3 linked regions of the Homo sapiens genome follow. The gene in region 3 interacts genetically with the main gene of each other region. Each region holds a gene or a part of one and is shown on either strand. Other genes may lie near its edges.

Region 1 (3,651 bases), on a different chromosome or scaffold from region 3:
GGTGGATCACCTGAGGTCAGGAGTTCGAGACCAGCCTGACCAATATGGTGAAACCCTGTCTCCACTAAAAATACAAAAATTAGATGGGCGTGATAGTGTGTGCCTGTAGTCCCAGCTACTCGGGAGGCTGAGACAGGAGAATTGCTGGAACCTGGGAGGTGGAGGTTGCAGTGAGCTAAGATTGTGCCACTGCACTCCAGCCTAGGGGACAGAGTGAGAATCCGTCTCAAAAAAAAAAAAAAAAAAAATTGACATGAAGCTTGGACTCCAGCACAGAGTAGGTGCTCAATAAATGTTAGTCTCTTGGTCTCTTGGTTTCCTCTGGATCCTAGAGATCAGGGCTCTCACCTGCAGGGGTTTAAAAATAATCCACACATGTGTACATCTCGTGGGGCCAGGTCTTTTCAATGAACCACAGGTGGTCCTGAGAAGCATGCTGCCTCTATGCCGCATTGGACCATGTGAGTGGCCAGAGTAGGCAAGATACTCGATTAACGGGCATTTTAAAGAACTGACAGTTAGGATGAATCAACAGCAATTCAAAGCAACCAAGACCTCCTGTGTACTTGCAAACAGCTGGTGCTCCTGGATACAGAGAAGAGCAAGTTTGCCAGCAGCATCCAGTTTACAAGAGCTAACCATGGCTACCTCTCTGAGAAAATACAAAACTGTGAAAGGTCAAAGCAAGTCAGTTTTAGCAACAAAGCACCTGGTTTCCAGGGAAACCAAAGGGAGATGCCAAAACGTGGGAGGTGGCTGTATGCTAACCCGATGCAGAGGACCACGCACTTTCCACTTGGCAAGCGGTTACTTTTCTGGTCAGCGATGCTGCTCAGACACACCCAGCCGGGCGCACCATCAGAGGCGGCACACGTCAGGCAGGTGTGAGCAGCTCAGGGCTAATGAAAGAAAAGTGATGGTGCCAGAGCCCCCGTGCTCAGCCCCGGTGCGCGCTGGTCTGCAGGAGGGTTTCACCAGACTGCTGAAGCCGGGGACAGAAGTGTCACGCAGTTTACCGGAAAGCTAGTTACTCAACGGAAAGCACCATCTTTTGGCCTGAGATGCCGCTCTCCGTGGTTTCTTTGGTGTTACAATGCCCAGCATTTTGCTGAATGACAATGCGGTGGCAGGTGTTTTTCTCTTAACATCCTTATTTGGAAAAATTTACAGGTAAAACATGCAATATCAGCCCTTCACCATTTAAAAAAAAACAAAAAACAAAAAAAAAAACCTGACATGTAAGATCTAAACATCCATGAACCACTGCTCTACAATAAAGCCTTAGGTTCCAAAGAGACCTCTGGGTACTACTGGATGGGATGAGGGCGGCTGCGAGGGGGGTCTGGCAGGGCTTCCACCAGCCCCTCGTCAACCAAAGCGGTTCTTCTCTGTTAGCTAGACTGAGTGTGCTGCTTTCAGACGTCAGCAAACCCCTGCTCTGGGGTAAGGGCTGGCAACCTCCTGGGATGGGACCACTGGCACACAGCGGAGCACTTCTCCAGGAGCCGGCAGATTCTGCCGCTGTGGGAGAAGGGAGACAGGCGGAGAACTCCAAGAACACACATCCTTTTGTGGCCTGGAGTTGAGAGCCAGGCTCAGCTTTGACTGCCACCTAGTGGTAGCACAGGCTGCCAACAGCGATTCCCCTGGGATCCCCAGCTGCCGGCCGCTGCCTGAGAACCAGGAGGAAAATGTCCTCAAGTGCCCCTCTGCTAACCCAGAATCCCATCGACTCCCAACTGCTGGTACAAACGGAGCAGAAAGAACTACCCGTATCAGTTGCAAGCATCCTCATTCTTAAACATTTGAATATTCAAGATATTCAAGGTATTTCTAGAAATTCAAGATATTTCAAATAAAAGCACAAGTCACGTAGTCAGGGAGAGAGTTACCCACTCTCCTTGTGCCCCTCCCACGCTAGGCAAGGCCACCAGGTGTCAGAATGACGCAGAGCACCAGCTCAGGTCCCGCGCTTGCTGCTGCCCATGAACAGCAGAGTATCCAAACCATCTCAAGGGTTCATTTCCAGCTTCAGAATGAAGATAGATAAAGCAGGGTCACATGGGGCTTCAGTAAGTACAATGCAGGAAGAAGAGTTTTTGTTTGTTTGTTTGTTTTTGAGAAGGAGTTTTGCTCTGTCGCCCAGGCTGGAGCGCAGTGGCATTATCTCAGCTCACTGCAACCTCTGCCTCCTGGGTTCAGGCAATTCTTCAACCTCAGCCTCCCGAGTAGCTGGCACTACAGACACATGGCACCACGCCCGGCTAATTTTTGTATTTTTAGTAGAGACAGGGTTTCACCATATTGGCCAGGCTGGTCTCGAACTCTTGATCTCGTGATCTGCCCGCCTCGGCCTCCCAAAGTGCTGGGATTATAGGAGTGAGCCACTGCGCCCGGCCGAGAAGAGTTTTTAAAGGCTAAAAACAATTCAAATGACAGCTAACACTTACTGAGTGTTGACAAGTTCCAGAAAGGAGTTAAACACATTTAAAGGCATTTTCTTGTTAACAGACTTAGTTGGCTACATTAAAAAACTGATGACACTGGTGTCCTCATCTCTGAGCCCAAGTGATACAAAACTGTTATAATTTGTTTATTAGAAGCTCAGGGGAAAGGTGAATGAGAAAATACAATCAATGTCAACATTATTTTATTGGTAGGGTATCTAAAAGCCACATGGTGCACTAATGACTCCAGGTAAAAGGCAGGAGCATAGAACTCTTGAGAAGCAACAACAGCCAGTGTTCACCAAACACCTAAAATGTGCCTGGCACTTTCTATTTAGTATTTCCGTTAAATCTCCTAACAACACTCAAGCTTGACACTGATAATTTTCTCCATTTTACAGATGAGGAACAGACAGATTGATTACTCAAGGGCATGCTGGTAACCCATGGAACTAGAACTCCTGGTTCCTACGCTGAGAAAGAAAGACATCTCCACCTTTACCTGTCCTTCTCAGTGGTGCAACTGTGCAGTAGACATTTCCATGCAAAAGCAAAACCTTGGTAGCACCCGATCTGTGAATGTGAAAAATATTTAAGAGTGAAATTAATAAGCAACTAGCTACACTTTCATTACCAAGATCTCAAAACAAAAGGTGGGGGCAGAAGGCAGCGGTGCTTCTCACACTATTGTTCTGGAAGCACCTGTTGAGCATTAGGCAATGGAAATTAGGAAATTAGGTCATCGGTGGGGCAGCCAGCCTCCCAGATGCCCCAGTCCTCATCTCCTGGTACCCATGCCCTGTGCAGGTCCCTCGACACTCCACCAGGGTGGCTTTCGTAACCAACAGAATGTGGAGGAACAGCACAAAGCTCCTGAGTCTAGGGATAAAAGCCAGTGTCACTTGCCTCACCAGCTCTCTTGGACCACTCGCTCTTGAATGTCACGAGGACACACAAGCAGCCCCATGGAGACGTCCATGCCCACAGTCAGGTGACAGCACCACCTTGGAGGCAGATCCTCCAAGCCCAGTCAAGCCTTCAGGTGACACGGCTCTGGCTGACACCCTGAGCCAGGACCACCCAGCAAAGCTGCTCCTGAGTTCCCAACCCTCAGAAACATGTGAGATCATCCATATTTGCTGTGTTAAGCCCATGAATTTTGTGGTGATCTGTTTCACAGCATCGAACATCCAATATAGTCATA
Region 2 (3,651 bases), on a different chromosome or scaffold from region 3:
CATGAGTCAAAGAAACAGCAGTGAACAGCCTTCAGGCTACGGTTTGGGCCATTCCTCTGCCAGCGTATTCCAGCCAAAGTCTGTTTTCCTATCAGACTACTCACTGCAAGGCACAGAAGTGAGCGCGGGATCTAAGGCCACACCGCAGGGTCTGAACTCACTTAACTGGCCCAACACTGCACAAGATACTTAATCCTCCTGAACCTCAGTTTCTTCATCTGCGTACGGGGGATATGAACCCCCACATGCTGGACTGCTCTGAGAATTGAGTTAATGCGTGTAAAACATGAGAGCTGCTCTGGCACCCACCAGGCGCTCACCGGGCGCCAGCACCACCAGTGCATACCTCGACCGTGTGTGGGCGCACAGGCCTCCGTTCCTTTTTACTCCGACCGATGCTTCTAAGGAAGTCTTCGACCGCTTTTTCTGTCTGAGGCATCTGCTGAGGAGTCGCATTCACTGAACACCTGTTTGAAAAATTATGTATACATAAAACCACTGTTAGAAAAAACAGTTTTAGTAATTCATCACATTTTGTATAACTCAATAATGTTGTTTTTATAGAAAATACTGTTCAGAGTGTTAAACAGCAGCCAAATGTGGAAATGCCACGGCCGCCTCCCTGCTCTTCAGTGCTTCAGGTTATCAAGAGATTTCCGCACAGTTCAATGTGGCAGCTAATGAAGCCGTCCATACGCGGAGCCTGTGACTCTAAACTCTAGTTCTTCTGAAGAGCAAAGAAAATACAGAGACTATTAAGATCTGCTAACCGTGCCTTCGGAATTACACTATCAAAACACTGACAACTTTTAAAATTACTGTCCAGAAGTCATCAATTTGAAAATGTGAACTGGTTGTTAAAGCAGAACATTATAAACTGCAAAAAAATACCATGCTCTCAAAGTTACATGAAAATAGAACTCTTCCAAATTCCACAGAATTGCAAATACTACTATCATATAAAAGCTACTTGAACTCTACAGTATATTGACAGAGTGTATATTTTTTCCTTTCAGCTGTAAATCCTGAACTTATTCTAGTTAAAGTAACAGCAGGTACCATTATATTAATACTAACTATATCCCAGGCATGTATGCTGCCTTGCAGATATTCTTTCTTTTATTCCTTACGATAAACCTGCAAAGGAAGGTTTTATGGAGGAGGAAGCAGAAGACGCAAGTGGGTCAGCTGCCCAGGACCGCCTGGGAGCGAGTGTGAGTGCTGACCCGGCGGCACCAGAAGCCAGGCCTGCCTGAGCCCAATGCCAAGAGACCCTGATCGCCAGGCTTCACCTCTGGCCACCCACAGACCGCCCTGTAGAATCTGCCAGGGATTCTCAGGACATGACTGGGGAAAGGCATCAGGACTCTGTGTGAAGAAGGACAAGTGACTTCAGCAAACATTTTCTTGTTAAGTACTGATGAATACATCAATGTCACTGACAATAAGATGCTGAAAATAAACAATCATTTTTAAACTTTATTCATGCTCACACATCTGAGGGCATAAGGCCAACTGAAGGTATAGGACTGAGCTGCCAGATGTTTCCTCAAAGCATCACATAATTTTATAAGAAACTGCACTTTTACTCTGGTCTTCAGCAAGCTCACCTTTACAGATACCTCAGTTACGGACCATGTGCTTTTGGAAGCAATATAACTACTTGCCCTCAATCTATTTGCACTTCTAGCACAAAATTAGCCTGCTTTCTTCCCCATCTCCTACAACTTTTAATAGGCTTAAAATATTTTCTTAGTTTGTTAGAACACTTGACATTTACAATAAATTCTATAACCTTTACCAAGCACTCTATCTTGAAGTTTCTACAAGTAAGAAATACCTAAAAACTATACTTAATAGAATGAATCATAAAATATTTAGAAACAAATCACACATGCACCTCATATTATCACCATTTAACAAGTGTTTCTTGATACGCGGGAGCTTCCTCAGGATGGGTTTGATATCTGTCATTTCTGCAATCCTCTTCATCAGCCGCACCTAAGCCAGAGGAAACTCGCTCAGAGAGAGGCAGAGGCTACAACAGACCCGCTGAGTCTGAACCAAGCACCTGTGACATCAGAACCCTGCTTGGGCAGGGGTTATGTGTGCGAGTGCACGGCTTGGGCAGGGCTGGAACTGGGATGCAGGGTGGTACAAAGAGGAAGATGAGTCAAAACCAACCAACCAATTCTTCCCCATATTTAGTCAGTTAGAAAGTTAGCATTTCTGGGACATAAATTAATGTATTCCCAAAGAAATTAGTAACTCTGGAATATGTGGCTAAACCGGAGTAATAGAGGTTCCTTCCAAGCTTCCCACCTGATCCATCCCGCTGAAGGTCTCCTGCAGGTCCCCTGCGGGCGTGAGGGTCCGGCCTGCCCTGATGGATGCGTACAGGTGCCCAGAGTCAGGAATTCCATTGGCGAGCTCCTGGGCGGTCATCTTCACCAGCACCTTGAAGTGCTCCTCTTCTTCAAAGCACGGGCTATGGAAAAAGGAGAAGAAAAAATTCCTGGAGACCCATTCCTCACGTCCCTTCAGTATCATGGAAAGTTGATTAAGTTTTCAGAGTACTTTAACAACCAAAGAAATTTTATAAGTCCATATGAACTACAAGTAAAAGTCAGACTTGGAAAACAACAACACACACGAGTAAAACTGTCTCCTTTAAAGTACTTCAAACAAAGATCTCTAGTACACCCCAAGAATGGACAACTCTTGCAAATAAAGTTACTTGTTAAATATTTCACTCCATAGCTGCATCATGTCTGGCAGGTTTCGATCCAGGCAGAGAGAGGAGAAAAGCACACCCTGAACCAAAGAAAACACAGAAGAAAGGAATTAGGGCCGAATCGAACAGTGACAGACACTGGAGAAAAGCTTCCCACCGCAGCAGTCGTCTGACGGTACCAGGCTACCTGCTCGTAGGTGTCCATGTGTGAGTCGTCGGGGAGCACGTGGGGAGAAGCACTCATCCCTCCGGTCTTCAATTCTATCTGCTGAGCCTGCTCCCGGTAGTCAAGAAGGCCGCAGCCCAGCCTGACACAGCAGAGAAGCATCGCCCCGATTACAAGTCAGTCTTTACTGAATCATTTTTAAAATCGTGCATCTTGAGTTACAAGTTGCTTCCATTAATTCAATAACTGCGGCTTTGCCAACCTCTCTACACTTCGAAGGTCATAAGCAGGTGCACTCTGGCCTTCGCCCTCGAGAGTTCATGTGCCCCCTTCCCCAGGGAGACCCCAGTTTCTCCCGCCTAGGAAGTTAGCGTCCAGAGGCACAAGACACTTGGGCAGCCAGTGTCTGCACTTAAAACACCATTCTAAAATAGGCATTTCCAGTTGTAAGCTCTTCAATAAATGTTTTATGACTACTCCCTACTCTCTTCACCCAGATCACCGTGATACATACTTCCTTTGTTTTGCTCGAATGTCTGGTAGCCTGGGCGGGGGAGTCCGAAGACTAAAGGTTTTTTAAGTTTTTAAGAAAAGCAGTTTCCTCTCAGCACTCATGCTTTTGAAAGAAACATTCACAGTGACACTGCTAATGCCAGCAATAATTGAGTCAAGGGAATGACCATGAGGTGTTTTCTAAACCGCTACAAAAGGATGAACAGTGGCAGCTATATTTAAAAAGAAAGGCAGGGAA
Region 3 (3,651 bases):
ACACAAACAAATGGAAAAACATTTCATGCTCATGGATAGGAAGAATCAATATAGTCAGAATGGTCATACTGCCCAAAGCAATTTATAGATTCAATGCTACTCCTATTAAATGTCAATGGTAATTGACATTGTTCACAGAACTAGAGACAACTATTTTAAAATCCAAATGGAAACAAAAAAGAATCCAAATAGCCAAGGCAATCCTAAGAAAAAAGAATGAAGCTGGAGGTATCACATTACCTGATTTCAAACTATACTACAAGGCTACAGTAACCAAAACCGCATGGTACTGGTACAAAAACAGACACACAGACCAATGGAACAGAATAGAGACTCCAGAAATAAGGCCTAACACCTACAACCATATCATCTTCAACAAACCTGACAAAAACAAGCAATGGGGAAAGGAGTCCTTATTCAATAAATGGTGCTGGGATAACTGGCTAGCCACAGGCCGAAGATTGAAACTGGAGCCTTCCTTATACCATAAACAAAAATTAACTCAAGATGGATTAAAGACTTACATGTAAAATCCAAAAGTATAAAAACCATGGAAGACAACCTAAGTAATACCATTCAGGACAGAGACACGGGAAAAGATTTCATGACAAAAACAACAAAAGCAACTGCAACAAAAGTAAAAATTGACAAATGAGGTCTAATTAAACTAAAGAACTTCTGCATAGCAAAAGAAACTGTCAACAGAGTAAGCAGACAACCTATAGAATGGGAGAAAATTTTTGCAAATTATGCGTCCAACAAAGCTCTAATAATATCCAGCATCTATAAGGAACTTAAACAAATTTACAAGAAAAAAAAACATAAAGTGGACAAAGTATATGAAAAAAACACTTTTCCAAAGAAGACATACATGCAGCCAACAAGCACACAAAAAAAAAAATGCTCAACATCACTAATCATTAGAGAAATGCAAATCAAAATCACAACAAAACACCACCTAACACCAGTCAGAATGGCTAGTATTAAAAAGTCAAAAAATAACAGATGCTGGTGAGGTTATGAAGAAAAAGGAACACTTATATGCACTGTTGGTGGGAGTGTAAATTAGTTCAACTACTGTGGAGAGCAGTGTGGCAATTCCTCAAAGAATGAAAAACAGAATTACCATTTGACCCAGCAATCCTATTACTGGGTATGTACCCCAAGGAATATAAATCATTCTATTATAAAGACACATGCATGCGTATGTTCATTGCAGTACCATTCACAATAGCAAACACATGGAATCAACCTAAATGCCTATCAATGACAGACTAGATAAAGAAAATGTGGTACAAATATATCATGGAATACTATGCAGCCATAAAAAAGAACAAAATCACGTCCTTTGCAGTGACATGGCTGGAGCTGGAGGCCATTATCCTTAGCAAATTAACACAGGAACAGAAAACTAAGTACTACATGTTCTCACTTACAAGTAGGAGCTAAATGATGAGAACACATAGACACATACAAGGAAACAACACACACTGGGGCCTATCAGAGGGTGGAAGGTGGAAGAAGGGAGAGGATCAGAAAAAATAACTAATGGCTACTAGGCTTAATACCTGGGTGATAAAATAATTTGTACAACAAACCTCCATGACATAAGTTTACCTATGTAACAAACCTGCACATGTACTCCTGAACTTAAAATAAAAGTTACAAGGCCAGGCGTGGTGGCTCAGGCCTGTAATCCCAGCACTTTGGAAGGCCGAGGTGGGCGGATCACCTGAGGTCAGGAGTTCGAGACTAGCCTGGCCAACATGGCGAAACCCTATCTCTACTAAAAATACAAAAATTAGCCAGGTGTGGTGGTGTGCGCCTGTAATCCCAGCTACTTGGGAGGCTGAGGCAGGAGAATCGCTTGAACCTGGGAGGCAGAGGTGGCAGTGAGCCAAGATTGTGCCACTGCATTCCAACCTGGGTGACAGAGCACAACTCCATCGCAAAAAAATAAAAAATAAAAAATAAACAAATAAAATAAAAGTTACAGAGATGATAAAATGCATTACTACTAGCAGACAAAACAAATTGGACTTCAAATAAATGAACATAATATAACCTACTCAAAAAGGTCAGTTCATCAATTGAAAAGCTTAAACATGAAATATTTTTCTCATTGTAAAAACAAGTACAGTATATCAAACTATGTCTGTGTATCCATAATAGCAAATTAAATTTTTTTTGTTTGTTTTTTAGCATCCCAAACCCCCCCCCAACCCCCGAGGTAACCACTTTTACCAGACTGGAGTATATCTTTCCAATTTTCTATGTATTTGCATATACATACACACACATACAAACACATACACACATTGTTATGGTCTGAACTGTGTACTCCCCACCCCCACAAATTTATATGTTGAAGTCCTAACCTCTAATACTTCAGAATGTGACTATATTTGGAAACAGGGCCCTTAAAGAGGTAATTAAAGTTCAATGAGGTCATTAAGGTGGGCCTTAATCCAATATGACCAGTATACTTCTAAGAAGAGGATATCAGGACACAGACACAAACAGTGGAAAAGACAGTGTGAAGACAGAGGTATAAGATGGCCATCTACATGCCAAGGAGAGAGACCTCAGAAGAAATCAACTCTACTGACACCTTCATCTTGGACTTCATGGGTTCCAGAACTGTGAGAAAATACATTTCTGTTGTATAAGCCACCCAATCTGTGGTGTTATGGCAAACGTAGCAGGCAAGCACACATGTACATGCACAGTTATTAAGTCACTACAGTCAGAGTAGTTGAAGAAAGAGTTCATACTTAGCAAACATTCATGCACTCAAAAATATGAATATATTACAATATTATAGTATAAGTTACTCAAGATCAGTAAAAACAATTTTATAAGTAAACCAAAATCGAAGCTTCACCTTGTCTTTTTCTAATATGCTTTGAAAAGCAGAAGTTTAAAAGTTGCTCTCCCAAAACATCAGCACCTAAGGAACTATACCCTTAGGATGCGGTTTCCCTACTTTAATATCCATCCCTCTCTAGATATTGTAAAGAAAACTTAATCAGAGGACTAATGAACATCCCAAAATACAGTGTGCAGTTAAAATTTCTACAAACAGCAAATTTTTATATCTTATTCCTCAAAGAATGTTATCCTGTAAGTCACTTTATCTTAGCAAATGATGCTCACAAATAAAGTAACTCAAAAATTTTAGGATAAAAAGTAAGTGTGCTTTGGTTATTGAACTAAAACTGACAACAATCAGTGATGCTACTCCACCACGGTACCATATGCCTAATGACAGAAATGCAACGGACAAACTTATGAGGTTGCCCTGAAGAAAGTTAGCTTTCAATTCCAAATGTATAGCAGTGGAGCAAATATTATTAATTATTATGTTAGATTTTTGCTTTGGTTTGGTTATAGAGTTTAATCATTCATTTTACATATATTTTCTGATTACCTATTACATGTAACATACCGTGCCTAGCTCTGTGGAAGATAAAAACAAAAAGATGATTGGAATATATTAGCATTTTAGGCACATAAAATCTTATCTCCTCCACAAGATACATAACTACTTGTAGGAAAAAGTGTTGTAGGAGTTCAGAGGAGGGAGAAATCAAAGTCTTATTAGCTTATAAGGAATGGTTTCAGGGAACGGACTGACCTTTGAACTAACAT

Evidence for each region.
Region 1: changes in ABCB7 (region 3) and LTO1 together harm fitness more than expected from each alone (negative genetic interaction), as found in Homo sapiens cells (one large-scale study listed by BioGRID).
Region 2: changes in ABCB7 (region 3) and PITRM1 together harm fitness more than expected from each alone (negative genetic interaction), as found in Homo sapiens cells (one large-scale study listed by BioGRID).

The regions. Positions count from the first base shown.
Region 1 is NC_000011.10:69,668,800-69,672,450, forward strand, and holds part of LTO1 (protein LTO1 homolog), read right to left. Parts: intron 3,021-3,651; coding exon 2,950-3,020; intron 1-2,949. UniProt on the Homo sapiens protein: The complex LTO1:YAE1 functions as a target specific adapter that probably recruits apo-ABCE1 to the cytosolic iron-sulfur protein assembly (CIA) complex machinery. May be required for biogenesis of the large ribosomal subunit and initiation of translation.
Region 2 is NC_000010.11:3,145,250-3,148,900, forward strand, and holds part of PITRM1 (presequence protease, mitochondrial isoform 2 precursor), read right to left. Parts: intron 3,381-3,651; exon of another isoform or gene 3,043-3,380; coding exon 2,922-3,042; coding exon of another isoform or gene 2,919-2,921; exon of another isoform or gene 2,815-2,918; coding exon 2,738-2,814; exon of another isoform or gene 2,489-2,737; coding exon 2,323-2,488; exon of another isoform or gene 2,002-2,322; coding exon 1,901-2,001; exon of another isoform or gene 468-1,900; coding exon 347-467; exon of another isoform or gene 1-346. UniProt on the Homo sapiens protein: Metalloendopeptidase of the mitochondrial matrix that functions in peptide cleavage and degradation rather than in protein processing. Has an ATP-independent activity. Specifically cleaves peptides in the range of 5 to 65 residues.
Region 3 is NC_000023.11:75,146,166-75,149,816, forward strand, and holds part of ABCB7 (iron-sulfur clusters transporter ABCB7, mitochondrial), read right to left. Parts: intron 1-3,651. UniProt on the Homo sapiens protein: Exports glutathione-coordinated iron-sulfur clusters such as [2Fe-2S]-(GS)4 cluster from the mitochondria to the cytosol in an ATP-dependent manner allowing the assembly of the cytosolic iron-sulfur (Fe/S) cluster-containing proteins and participates in iron homeostasis.